Homo sapiens: one gene and its partners. The protein of the gene in region 3 purifies or fractionates together with the protein of the main gene of each other region. This does not show direct contact. Each region holds a gene or a part of one and is shown on either strand. Other genes may lie near its edges. The genes, in order: CEBPZ, ZNF100 and FGF3.

Region 1 (3,650 bases), on a different chromosome or scaffold from region 3:
AGATTTTTCAGAACAAACTAGGAACTGACTACCTTCCAACACACAAGCTCTTCATCCTTCTAAAGGATTATTCTCAGTTTAGTCTTCAGGGGAACTGATGGATTCTTCTCAAACTTTTCTGGCAGCTATCAGACTTCTCTTTTGTACTTCACAAACTGAAATTTGTAGATGAATTAATTTGACTGTGAGTCCCAAAGCAAGCTGAAGAAATGGGTCTGGCACCACATTTCTCGAACCTCAAGGCTGGTGTTTTCTTCACAGCCTCAAATGAAGGGGCTGCATTTCTAAGATTTTTTTTTGACTCTAACATTCTATTAATAGACTTTTAATTTAGTTTGGTGTGTGTATAGAAAACCACTTAACGTTTCTATCTTGAACAGAAAGTTTTCTATCCCTAAAACATTACTTTAAGAAACTGTGGGCCAGGTACAGTGGCTCACGCCTGTAATCCCAGCACTTTGGGAGGCTGAGGCAGGCAGATCACCTGAGGTCAGGAGTTTGAGACCAGCCTGGCGAACATGGTGAAACTCCACCTCTACTAAAAATACAAAAATTAGCCAGGTGTGGTGGCACATGCCTGTAATCCCAGCTACTTGGGAGGTTGAGGCAGGAGAATCACTTGAACCTGGGAGGCGGAGGTTGCAGTGAGCCGAGATCACGCCTCTGCATTCCAGCCTGGGCAACAGAGTGAGACTCTGTCTAAATAAATAAATAAGTAAATAAAATGGTAGAATGCTATTTTCTATGAAAATCAAAGAGAAACAAACTCCCTAGAGAATAAAGATGAAAAAAACTCACCTTTCAAATTATCAAAGTGCACCCAGGAAGCAACCTCTGGTTTTTTGGTTTCTACATCAGTTTCAGGAACTGTTTCCTCTGTCTCAAGTTTTTTCACTATCTCTGTTTCTTTGTCTGCATCAGTGAATTTTTCCATGTCTTCATCATCATTTGCATCAATAAAATTTTCTTCATCATCAGACTCCTAACAAAAGTATAGTTTCATAAATCTACATAAATCAACTGGAAGTTGCAATAAAGTCTGTGCTCCATTATGTGATGCAGAGTTTTACTTATTGCAACTCTGGTGAAACGTGAAAGTTCTAATAAAGTAAAATGATGGCTATCAATGGTATTTAAACAAGAGAGGAGATTACATCCTTATTTCTAAACATAACACAGTTAAGTTTTGAGCTAAGAACCCCTGAGCCTTAAGGACTCTAATACTTGAAAACAATTAGCCCTCAAGTAAATTTCTGACTTGTAAATAACCCTATGAGGTAGGTACTATTATTTCCATTTCATTGTTAAGGAAGAAGACTTAAGAGGTCTACTAAGTTTTATAGTCTTCCAAATCTCATATAATGGTAGCTTCTAGTATAGTACAGTTTATTGCAAGTAGAAGAGTTGAGCAACATGCCCACCTAGTAAACTGTACAGCTGGTACTAAAATCTAGGTTTGTCCTATTCCAGAACTCACACTCATATGCTCCAGAGAACTAGGTTACTGTCATTTGAAGCAAAGAAAAACAAAACAAAAACCAATATATTTCAGCACCCACTCAATTTAAAAAGCAGTTGTAAAATATACCGGATGATCATCTAGTTGGCTTCTTAAACCTGGTTTTGCTTTAAGGATCTCAGACACAAGATATAAAGCTCCACATATAAATGGTGGCATCTGTTGACAAGTAACTTGAAGTAACCTCTTCACAAAAGCCTTCACCCGGCGCAACACAATGTCAGCTTTCAGAGATTTGTAGACAAGGTTAAGAAACATAGCTTGCTTGGAACACGTCATCAACCCTGGATCCAACATCTTCCTGCAAAACAAAACCAAGGTCAAATATTTATGTATAAAACCATCTCCACAACCAATGGTCACATATTAGAAATAGCTACTAACCTCATCTTAGTTAGGGATAACTTTGCTGCTTATTTTAGAACAAGAGACCCTGCCCTAAGAGGTAAGATGGAAGTCAATGACCAGAAAAGGATGATGATGGCACCAGGAAAAACCAACAGCAACAGACACAGGAATAGGCATTTTTGAGTGTGTGGTTTTCTTGTCTTTTCCAAGTGTTTTTCTGTTTTCTATATCAACAGGGCACAGCCCTAACAGTATTTACAGAACCCCACCAGAAAAGCTAATCTAAAACCAGATAGTGAAAACTGACCCATGAAAGCAGAACATTAGAAGATTTGGGTTTTTGTCCTTGTATAACTACCTACTAGCAGGGGGACCAGAGGCCGCCTCTTCATGATTTTAGTGAAGACCATCGATGAACAGCAGAAAATTAAATTCTAAGGACTTCAGAGAATCTCTAGTCCAATGTACTAGCTGTGTAACATTCCTCTCATACACGCTATTTTCACTGCCCAGAGTGCTTCTCTCCAACTCTCTGCATGTCCACAGTATCCAAAATTGGTTCTTCTATTAGTCTCTCAGTCCCATGTTTGTGTTCTTCATAGTTTCACAAACTTGATTTTCCTGCCTTTCCCTCTTCTCTAAAGGTCCAATGAAATAGGGATTATGCCTGTTATTCACTGTTGTAACCCCAGTGCCTGGCAGTTAATACCTTTACATGACAGTTTTCCAAATACTTGAACCTATTTAGCTATTATGTGCTTGTCTCTCCCTAATGTCTGTCTTCTGTAGGCTGCTCTACTTTGATCTCATGATACTTTAAAAATTCTCTATCCTAGGTGCTGAATCCTACACATGTCCCCAACCGGTCTAGACCTGCAGATATTAGGACACCCAGAATTAACACAATCCTCCAGATTAGCTCTATTAACACCTGGAATCATTACTTCCTTTGTTTTAAGCATTTCCATTAATTTTTTCCTACTAACACTAGAAATGAAAAATACTTAAGCTTGTGAAGCACTTTCCTATTGCTCTGAATACTCTGGGAAATATCACCCTTTTGGTAATATTCTGGGATATTCTGGATTATTCAATTTTCTCTCTTTACATTTAAATTTTCCCTCTTTACATTTAAATTTTCCAACATTTCCATCCATTTTGCAATTTATTATTAGGCATAAATTACATCTCACATCAACAGAAACATCTGAGAAGAATTTAGAGACATGTCTCTATCATTTCATGAAATATTTTCCTAATGTTTTGATAAATATTTTTGTAAACCAAATCATGTCATTTCTTTTATCCCTCAATTAACTAGGGGTTTTCTTAATGTGAAGGATTCCTAATAAAACCAAGAGCAAACAAACACTTTAAGAAGGCCTAAAGGCCTGTTAAGAAACTCCATCTGTGAGCGCTTTTGGCAAATAGTAATTTCAAAAACTTAAAAATCCACCCTTCCTCAGAGATGTTAGACTATGATGTTAAATAGAGACAGAAAAATGTTTTCTAATAGATTTCAAACACTTTCTAAAAATCAAAAATTCCTATGACCATCAAAAGTTCAAAATAATGAAACCACCCCCCTTCAAAACAAACAAACAAACAAACAAACAAACAAACTAACAAAAACAAAACTCAAGATCCCGAAACCTCTACATTTTCAGCCTTGGAACTCTTTTCAAATTAACAGTGTTAAGTTATCTATTACTTCAAAGAGTTGTGGAAAGGCTTCTGAGTCTTTTTAGTGGACCAGAGCAATCAGTGCTATGAAATGTCATGA
Region 2 (3,750 bases), on a different chromosome or scaffold from region 3:
AATACTTTTTGGTAACAAAATTTTCACTTTTTTTTCCAATATTTTTCTTTATATTTATTTCACTATTTTTCTGCCCCCCTTAGATGATCCAGGGAGCAGAAATTATTTTTGTGTTTCCCCTCAATACCAGCATCTGATTGGCTGACCAGCAACGTGTCTCCAAGAAATGAAAGCTGGGTTGGGTGAAGACAATTTTAATGTCTCAAGGGGTTACCTTTTCAAAATAAGACTGCACCAGAAGACTCCTCTCAGCCCCAGGGCATCCACTTGCTCCCTTGAGAGGACACATTCCATACCTCGGGTCATCCTACGGGAGAAAATAAACCAGAAGCTGACATTCACTAGGCACTTTAGCTGACAGAACCATGGCGGATATCTCGGTTTATCCACAGATAGTACTGAAACCCAGGACCAGGAAAAAACTAAAGGGTGGCTGAGGACACATCACCCCATAGATTTTTCCAAATCAAAACCTTGACCCAAAAACATTCTGATAAATCTCTGTGCCTAGAGAAGGTAAAAGGAAAAGAGACACAGAGATTTTCTACAATACAGTGTCAGAGGATTAGTCTTTGTTTCCTTTTCGTGGGAAATATTTACAAGCGGATAACACATCTTCTTAAAAGCGCCATTTAATGCTTTGTCAAAAACAATTAATTAAAATATGGTATAAACAAGTACACTAAAGGACAAATAGGTGATAATGTGAATTAGGAAGGAAAAGTTGACATTTGGGAACGCCAGAAGAAATTGGAAATTTAGTATCTTACTGCAAGCCAGAGTGAGGCTGGAGAAATGGGGGACGGGGGTTAGACTTAACAACCTGCTTGGGACACAGGTGAAAAATGCAGCAGAAAATCAGTTCCCCGTGGAGTGTGAAAATAATTAAGAGACAGGCAATTCCACTGAGGTGTCTCTAGTCCCTGGGTTCCTACTTAAAAAAAAAAAAAATCTAACTCAGGTGCATTTTTTTTTTAATTACTACATTCAGAGAAAATGTAGGCTTAAACAACTATAAACTGTTAATTAACCTCTGATTACACAACCAGGAAATCTTCACCTGTATTGTACAAATCAAGAAACTACGTTACTGTAACCAATTACTAAATTTAGTTTTCTTCATCATACATTTTATAAATGACTTTCCTTCAAGCCTCTCCCATAGACAACAAACTACAAACCATAGCTGGATACTCTATGATTCTTGAATCACTGTTTGATTAAATTCTTTAGGCCAGGCGCGGTGGCTCACGCCTGTAATCCCAGCACTTTAGGAGGCCAAGGCGGGCGGATCACGAGGTCAGGAGTTCAAGACCAGCCTGGCCAACGAGGTGAAACCCCGTCCCAACTAAAAATACAAAAAAATAAGGCCGGCCCAGTGACAGGCGCCTGTAATCCCAGTTACTCGGGAGGCTGAGCCAGGAGAATCTCCAGAACCCGGGAGGCGGAGGTTGCAGTGAGGGGAGATCGCGCCACTAAACCCTAGCCTGGGCGACAGAGCGACTCCGTCTCAAACAAACAAAAAAATCGTTAATATTTGTGCAGTGACTCCCATACATTTTTAATAGGAGAAAAGAGGAACTGGGAAAGCCACGGACCAAAGATCTTCCCATTCATGAACCCGCACCCCGAGTCAGGATTTTCCCCTGACGACCCTCCCGTGGTCCCTGCACAATCTGAGAGAGACGCGGCGCTGCGGGTGCAGAGCTGCCAAGAGAGGGCTCCAGGCCAAGGCACAGTCACTACGCAGGGAAGAGAAAGGACGCCTGGGGTCCTGGCTGTCAGCGCAGCCGCCATCTTATGGCCGAAGGGGACGGAGGCCGAGCTGGGCAAGGCGCAGATTGTGAAGCTGACTGCGGAGAGGCCTGAGTCCCGCCACAGCTACTTCCCACCAGTTCCAACCAGCCCTTTCGCCGTCTCTCGGGATGTCGGACCGGGCACTCTCACCATTTCTAGGCTTCTAGGGGGTCCTGGCGTCTTAGCTGTGGATCTCCCAATATCTGCAGGTCAGAGGGCCACACAGGCTAGGCCCCTAGGAGCAGAAGACACAGAGAAGTGAGAGCAAAACCTGGAGCTCCGGCTACAGCGAGAGACAAAGACCCCGCCAAACCCGGAAGCCGTCCAGTCCGCTCCAGCTGCATGCCTGATTGGACGGTTTCCAGCCCAGCGTCCCTGGTTGGATAATGCTTAAATCCCCGCCCTGTCAGGCTTTGAGTGACAGAAGATGTGATCAGATGCGGGTTCAATGAAGAAAGAGTGACAGCCTAGACTGCCCCCTCTTCTGACAGGGCTTCCTCCCTCAGCTGAGCTAGGCCCATCCCAGAGAGTATTTGCCTTTAAATTTGTGTATAAGGTCATATGTATAAATAAATAATACATTATATAGCTATACACAAGTGAAAAGAATATAACAATTATTTTAAAATTTCAGCTTTTATGACCTTCCTGGCTTCTGGCCCTTTGAGCAGGCAGCCTGAGATTTTAGAAAAGAGAAAATCATCTAAAATGAATGTCAGCCACATGTGGATTTGAAATTTTCTAGTAGCCAAACTTTAAAAAGAAACAAGTTGAACTGATTGTTAACAATGTAATTCACCCATTATATTCAAAATATTATCATTTTAATGTGTGAGAAATATGTAATTATTGATAAAATATATAAATATTTGGAACTAAATCTTTGAAGCTGACTTTGTATTTTACCTTTCTAGCATATCGCATTTCAGACCAGGCACATTGTGGGAACCCAGTAGCCACACATGGACAATAGCTGTCACATTGAAGTGCAGCTCTGATGTCAGCGGTGTGAAGGGCCTGAACATCTCTTTCCTGCGAGAGTGAAAGAAGAGACTCTCCCTACAAACATCTCTCTTTGGTTCCTAGGGTGGACCAGATAGTTCCCATAGAAAGAGCTGAGGGCAGTAGGAATAAAATAGCCACAGGTAATAAACAACTGCTGGCCACCTGTTGCCCACCTTTCTTTTAGAGACCAGATAGTGAACAAAGGATGATGGGGCCACAGGAGAAAAAACAACTATGTCTTCAGTTCTGTCCACACACTTGAACTCCAGTATTTAGAGATGGAGAAAATAGATTAAAAACAAACATAGTTTGCTATATGGTCTTGGCCCTAACAATCAGGCTGTGTTTATCTGTTTTCTCCTGTGGTGTGGGGGACTATGTGAGTCTAAGCACCAATCACACGCATACATGTCTACAGGTATTTCTGCATTACCCAAAATTCTCTTACAAAACATCGAACTTTAAATCAGGGGAAGAAATCAGTACCTAGAGGGTGTCCACTGTTAGAAGCCAACTCTTAGTCAACCTGTCACTGAATCCTGGCAACTTATCTGTACTGGGTGCATGTATTAGTTAGCTATTGAGGCATAACAAATCATCCAAAACTTATTAGTTTATAATTGAAATGGTTGGCCATTTAGGCCGAGCTGAGTGGGGCCATTCTTCTGGTCTCAGCTGAGCTCCTTCAGACATGTATCATCACCTGCTTTTTGACTAGACAGCTGTGCATCTGGGGGTGAGCTTCTGCTCCTGGGTCTGTCAACAGGGGCACCTTGCTTCTCCTCTTCATGGTATCTTATTTTCCAGCTGGCTAACATGGGCATTATTCATGGAGATGGCAGCATTCTAAAAGAAAAAGAGAAGCAGTCAATACCATTTGAGCCTGGGCCCCAAACTGGCCCACTGTCATGTTCACAGGTTTCTGTTGACCTGAGCAAATAAGGTCAG
Region 3 (3,625 bases):
CCCCTGAGCCAACACCTTCTGCCCTGGTCATCTTGGCCACCCCAGGTGCCCTACCACGTGTCAGCAATTGATCTACACTGCCCCCAATCTCCCACCTTGGGAGAGCCTGAGCCCCCTGCCACCTGAGGCTCACAGGCACCTGTCCTTCAGTGACCCACCCCTCAAGTGGCCCCCCAAAGAGAAAGCCTATTTCCTGGCCTCTCTGGCCCTGAGAGGACTCACCTGCTGCAGGATCGAGGGACCTGGGAGAAGCTTGGGTCCTGCCCTGAGCTTCTCACAGTCTGCCATGGGAGCCAGACACTAACATGGTGTACCCAGTGTGTGGGGTGGGGAAGTCGGCCCTGAGCCCACCCGCTCATTCCCAGATAGTCGCTGAGCCCCAGGCTATGTGGGGGTCAGGCACAGATCAGACACTGTTCTATCCCCTGTAATGTAGGGCCTGGCACCACCCCTGGGCCTCAGTTTCCCCATCTATAAACATGGAGACCGGTCTTGGATAGTAACATCCAGACTGTGGCCCAGGGGGCACTGGGCCTCCAAGAGGGCTGGAGAGCAGGGGGGCTTGGGGTTATGGGGAGAGGCAGCCCCTACCACCAGGTCAAGCCTTCCACCCTTCCCTGCTCTGGGCTTTCATGTCGCTGAAAAACAGGATGGGGTGCTTGAAGCATCTTGTTCCCTGAGGTCCTGCGAGGTCAGATGCTGCTCGGTCCAGTCTGGGAGCCTCTGGAGGCCATTTCCACTCTCTCTCTCTGCCACGGGACACCACACCCCAGATGGGGACAGACCATGAGGGCCTCCGACTCCTCCCTGCGGCCAGTCCCCAGGAGGAAAGAGAGATCCTGCTGTCTGCCTTGCACCTGCTGCTTCCACCTCCCACCACCCTTTCTGGTTTGGAGGGAGCAGCTCCTGTCAGTCATCCCCTGAGGGAGGTGGCCCTAGGCATTACCACTTGCCTGTAGCTGGGACTGAAGCCTAGTGGGTCTGCATAAGGCATACCCACCTCTTCCCTACGCCACAGACTAAGAAGACCCCATGAGGCAGCCCTTGAGGGAAACTCCCACGGCCAAGTCTTGGGGATGTTGGTGTAAGCTCCTTCAGTTCAGAGCTTCACTGTGCCTTTGAGAGGGCAGGGTCCCTTCTGCCCTTCCCCCACTGCACCCTGGGCCTGACAAGGGTCCCATTAATCTCTGATGACAAAGAGGTGTCCTCTCTGTCCTGCTTGTGGTGGGACACCCCAGCTTCTGCTCTCATCCTAAGAACAGCAGTATCTGTGGCACTGATTGATCATGTGCCTCATGCCAGGCCCCAGCCCCTGCTCTGTGTTGTAACCTCTTCAACCTGCAAGGCGAGATCCTCCAGCTTAAGAGAGTGTTGCTCAGGGGTCAATGACCCCAGCTGGGGCCCCTGAGCGCAGCGTTTAATGGAGAGTCTGGGCTCATCAAACCTGGCTGTGTCCCCTTCCCTTCCTGCTTTTTGTGTTCTTTCTTCTTTTTTCTTTTCTGCAATTTCTTTTTTTTTCTTTTCTTTTTTTTTTTTTTTTTGAGTCAGAGTTTTGCTCTTGTCGCCCAGACTGGAGTGCAGTGGCACAATCTCTGCTCACTGCAACCTCTGCCTCCCGGGTTCAAGTGATTCTCCTGCCTAAGCCTCCCAAGTAGCTGGGATTGTGGGCGCACGCCACCACACCCGGCTAATTTTTTTGTATTTTTAGTAGAGACGGGGTTTTGCCATGTTGCCCAGGCTGGTCTCGAACTCCTGACCTCAGGTGATTCACCTGCCTCGGCCTCCCAAACTGCTGGGATTACAGGCATGAGCCACCGTGCCCAGCCTCTGCAATTTCTTTAAAAGAGATCTGGGTGTTGTCATCTTCCTTTGTCCAAATGCCCAGTCCTTGCTGACCTCCACACTGCCAGCAGACTGCCAGGGCACCTGGGTTGGCCGGCCTGGTCTCTGCTCCACAGACAACCCTACACATCCCTTTGCTGTGTCAGCGCCCTCAGATGGGGGACAGAGGCTGGTGGAACCCAGAGAGCAGGAGCTGGGAGTTGTCTGGCACAGCTTTGAGTGAAGGTGACCTTTAGGCAGAAGGCCAAGTTCACCAGGCACACAGGGGAGGAAGGACATGCTGGGCAGAGGGCAGGGCCTAGGCAAAGGTGTGACTGGCTGAGAGTGCGCTGGGGTTTGGCACTGGACCGAACAGCCTCACAGGAGGGGAGGGAGGCATCAGGCAACCCTGGGCCCTGACGCTGCCACAGTCTCCCCGGGGCACTGACCATGATATCTCATCCCCGCAGGAGCACTACAGCGCCGAGTGCGAGTTTGTGGAGCGGATCCACGAGCTGGGCTATAATACGTATGCCTCCCGGCTGTACCGGACGGTGTCTAGTACGCCTGGGGCCCGCCGGCAGCCCAGCGCCGAGAGACTGTGGTACGTGTCTGTGAACGGCAAGGGCCGGCCCCGCAGGGGCTTCAAGACCCGCCGCACACAGAAGTCCTCCCTGTTCCTGCCCCGCGTGCTGGACCACAGGGACCACGAGATGGTGCGGCAGCTACAGAGTGGGCTGCCCAGACCCCCTGGTAAGGGGGTCCAGCCCCGACGGCGGCGGCAGAAGCAGAGCCCGGATAACCTGGAGCCCTCTCACGTTCAGGCTTCGAGACTGGGCTCCCAGCTGGAGGCCAGTGCGCACTAGCTGGGCCTGGTGGCCACCGCCAGAGCTCCTGGCGACATCTTGGCGTGGCAGCCTCTTGACTCTGACTCTCCTCCTTGAGCCCTTGCCCCTGCGTCCCGCGTCTGGGTTCTCAGCTATTTCCAGAGCCAGCTCAAATCAGGGTCCAGTGGGAACTGAAGAGGGCCCAAGTCGGAGCTCGGAGGGGGCTGCCTGCAATGCAGGGCATTTGTGGGTCTGTGTGGCAGGAAGCCGGCAGGGAAGGGCCTGAGTGCCAGCCCTGGCAGACTGAGGAGCCTCCCAGGAGCAGCGGGGCAGTGTGGGGCTTTGTGTCATCACAACATTAAAGTATTTTATTCTACTCTGTCGTTTGGTAGACCGTGATGCAGGCTGAGGAGCGCTTGCCGCCTTTACTGGAACGTGCTTGCTTCCAGCACAGCAGAATCCGCGCTGGCATCAGCCTGCGTCAGCTGCTGCTTTAAGAGGAAGACGGCATTCCCAGAAATCGGGCTAAAGGTGCATTTCAGTTCCCTGGTTTTAGAAAGTTACGTTTTTTTGGATGGTTGGAAACAAGCAAAGGCATGTTTGTGCATGTGTGTGCATCGTGTGTGTGTGCGTGGAGAGAAGGATCGTGTATTTCTGAAAGCGTGAGTGTGCATGTGGGTATGTGTGATCTTGTGTTAGTGGTACCTGTGTGAGGACATGTATGTGTGTGTGTGTTTCTGGGTGTGTCTGAATGTGTGATGTGTGTGTGTCTGTGTGTGTGTGTGTGTGTGTGTGTGTGTGTGTGTGTGTGGAGAGAGAGAGAGAGAGTTTACTTTCTTTGAAAACTCTAAAAAGCCTCTCCCTCTGGAAGCTGTGTGCTTCTCCAGGGACCCTTTAGAGCAACTGTGTCAGGTCAGGCAGCACAGAAACTTCCTTTATCCTTACAACCTGCTCTTGGGGCCCGTGCACCCTGTCTT

Evidence for each region.
Region 1: the proteins of FGF3 (region 3) and CEBPZ purify together in Homo sapiens (affinity purification with mass spectrometry; 2 studies listed by BioGRID and IntAct, with this or other methods). This does not show direct contact.
Region 2: the proteins of FGF3 (region 3) and ZNF100 purify together in Homo sapiens (affinity purification with mass spectrometry; 2 studies listed by BioGRID and IntAct, with this or other methods). This does not show direct contact.

Annotation. Positions count from the first base shown.
Region 1 is NC_000002.12:37,221,582-37,225,231, forward strand, and holds part of CEBPZ (CCAAT/enhancer-binding protein zeta), read right to left. Parts: intron 1,821-3,650; coding exon 1,589-1,820; intron 983-1,588; coding exon 799-982; intron 1-798. UniProt on the Homo sapiens protein: Stimulates transcription from the HSP70 promoter.
Region 2 is NC_000019.10:21,765,480-21,769,229, forward strand, and holds the start of ZNF100 (zinc finger protein 100), read right to left. Parts: upstream 2,101-3,750; 5' UTR 1,951-2,100; coding exon 1,948-1,950; intron 308-1,947; coding exon 215-307; intron 1-214.
Region 3 is NC_000011.10:69,809,367-69,812,991, reverse strand, and holds the end of FGF3 (fibroblast growth factor 3 precursor), read left to right. Parts: intron 1-2,291; coding exon 2,292-2,687; 3' UTR 2,688-3,024; downstream 3,025-3,625. UniProt on the Homo sapiens protein: Plays an important role in the regulation of embryonic development, cell proliferation, and cell differentiation. Required for normal ear development.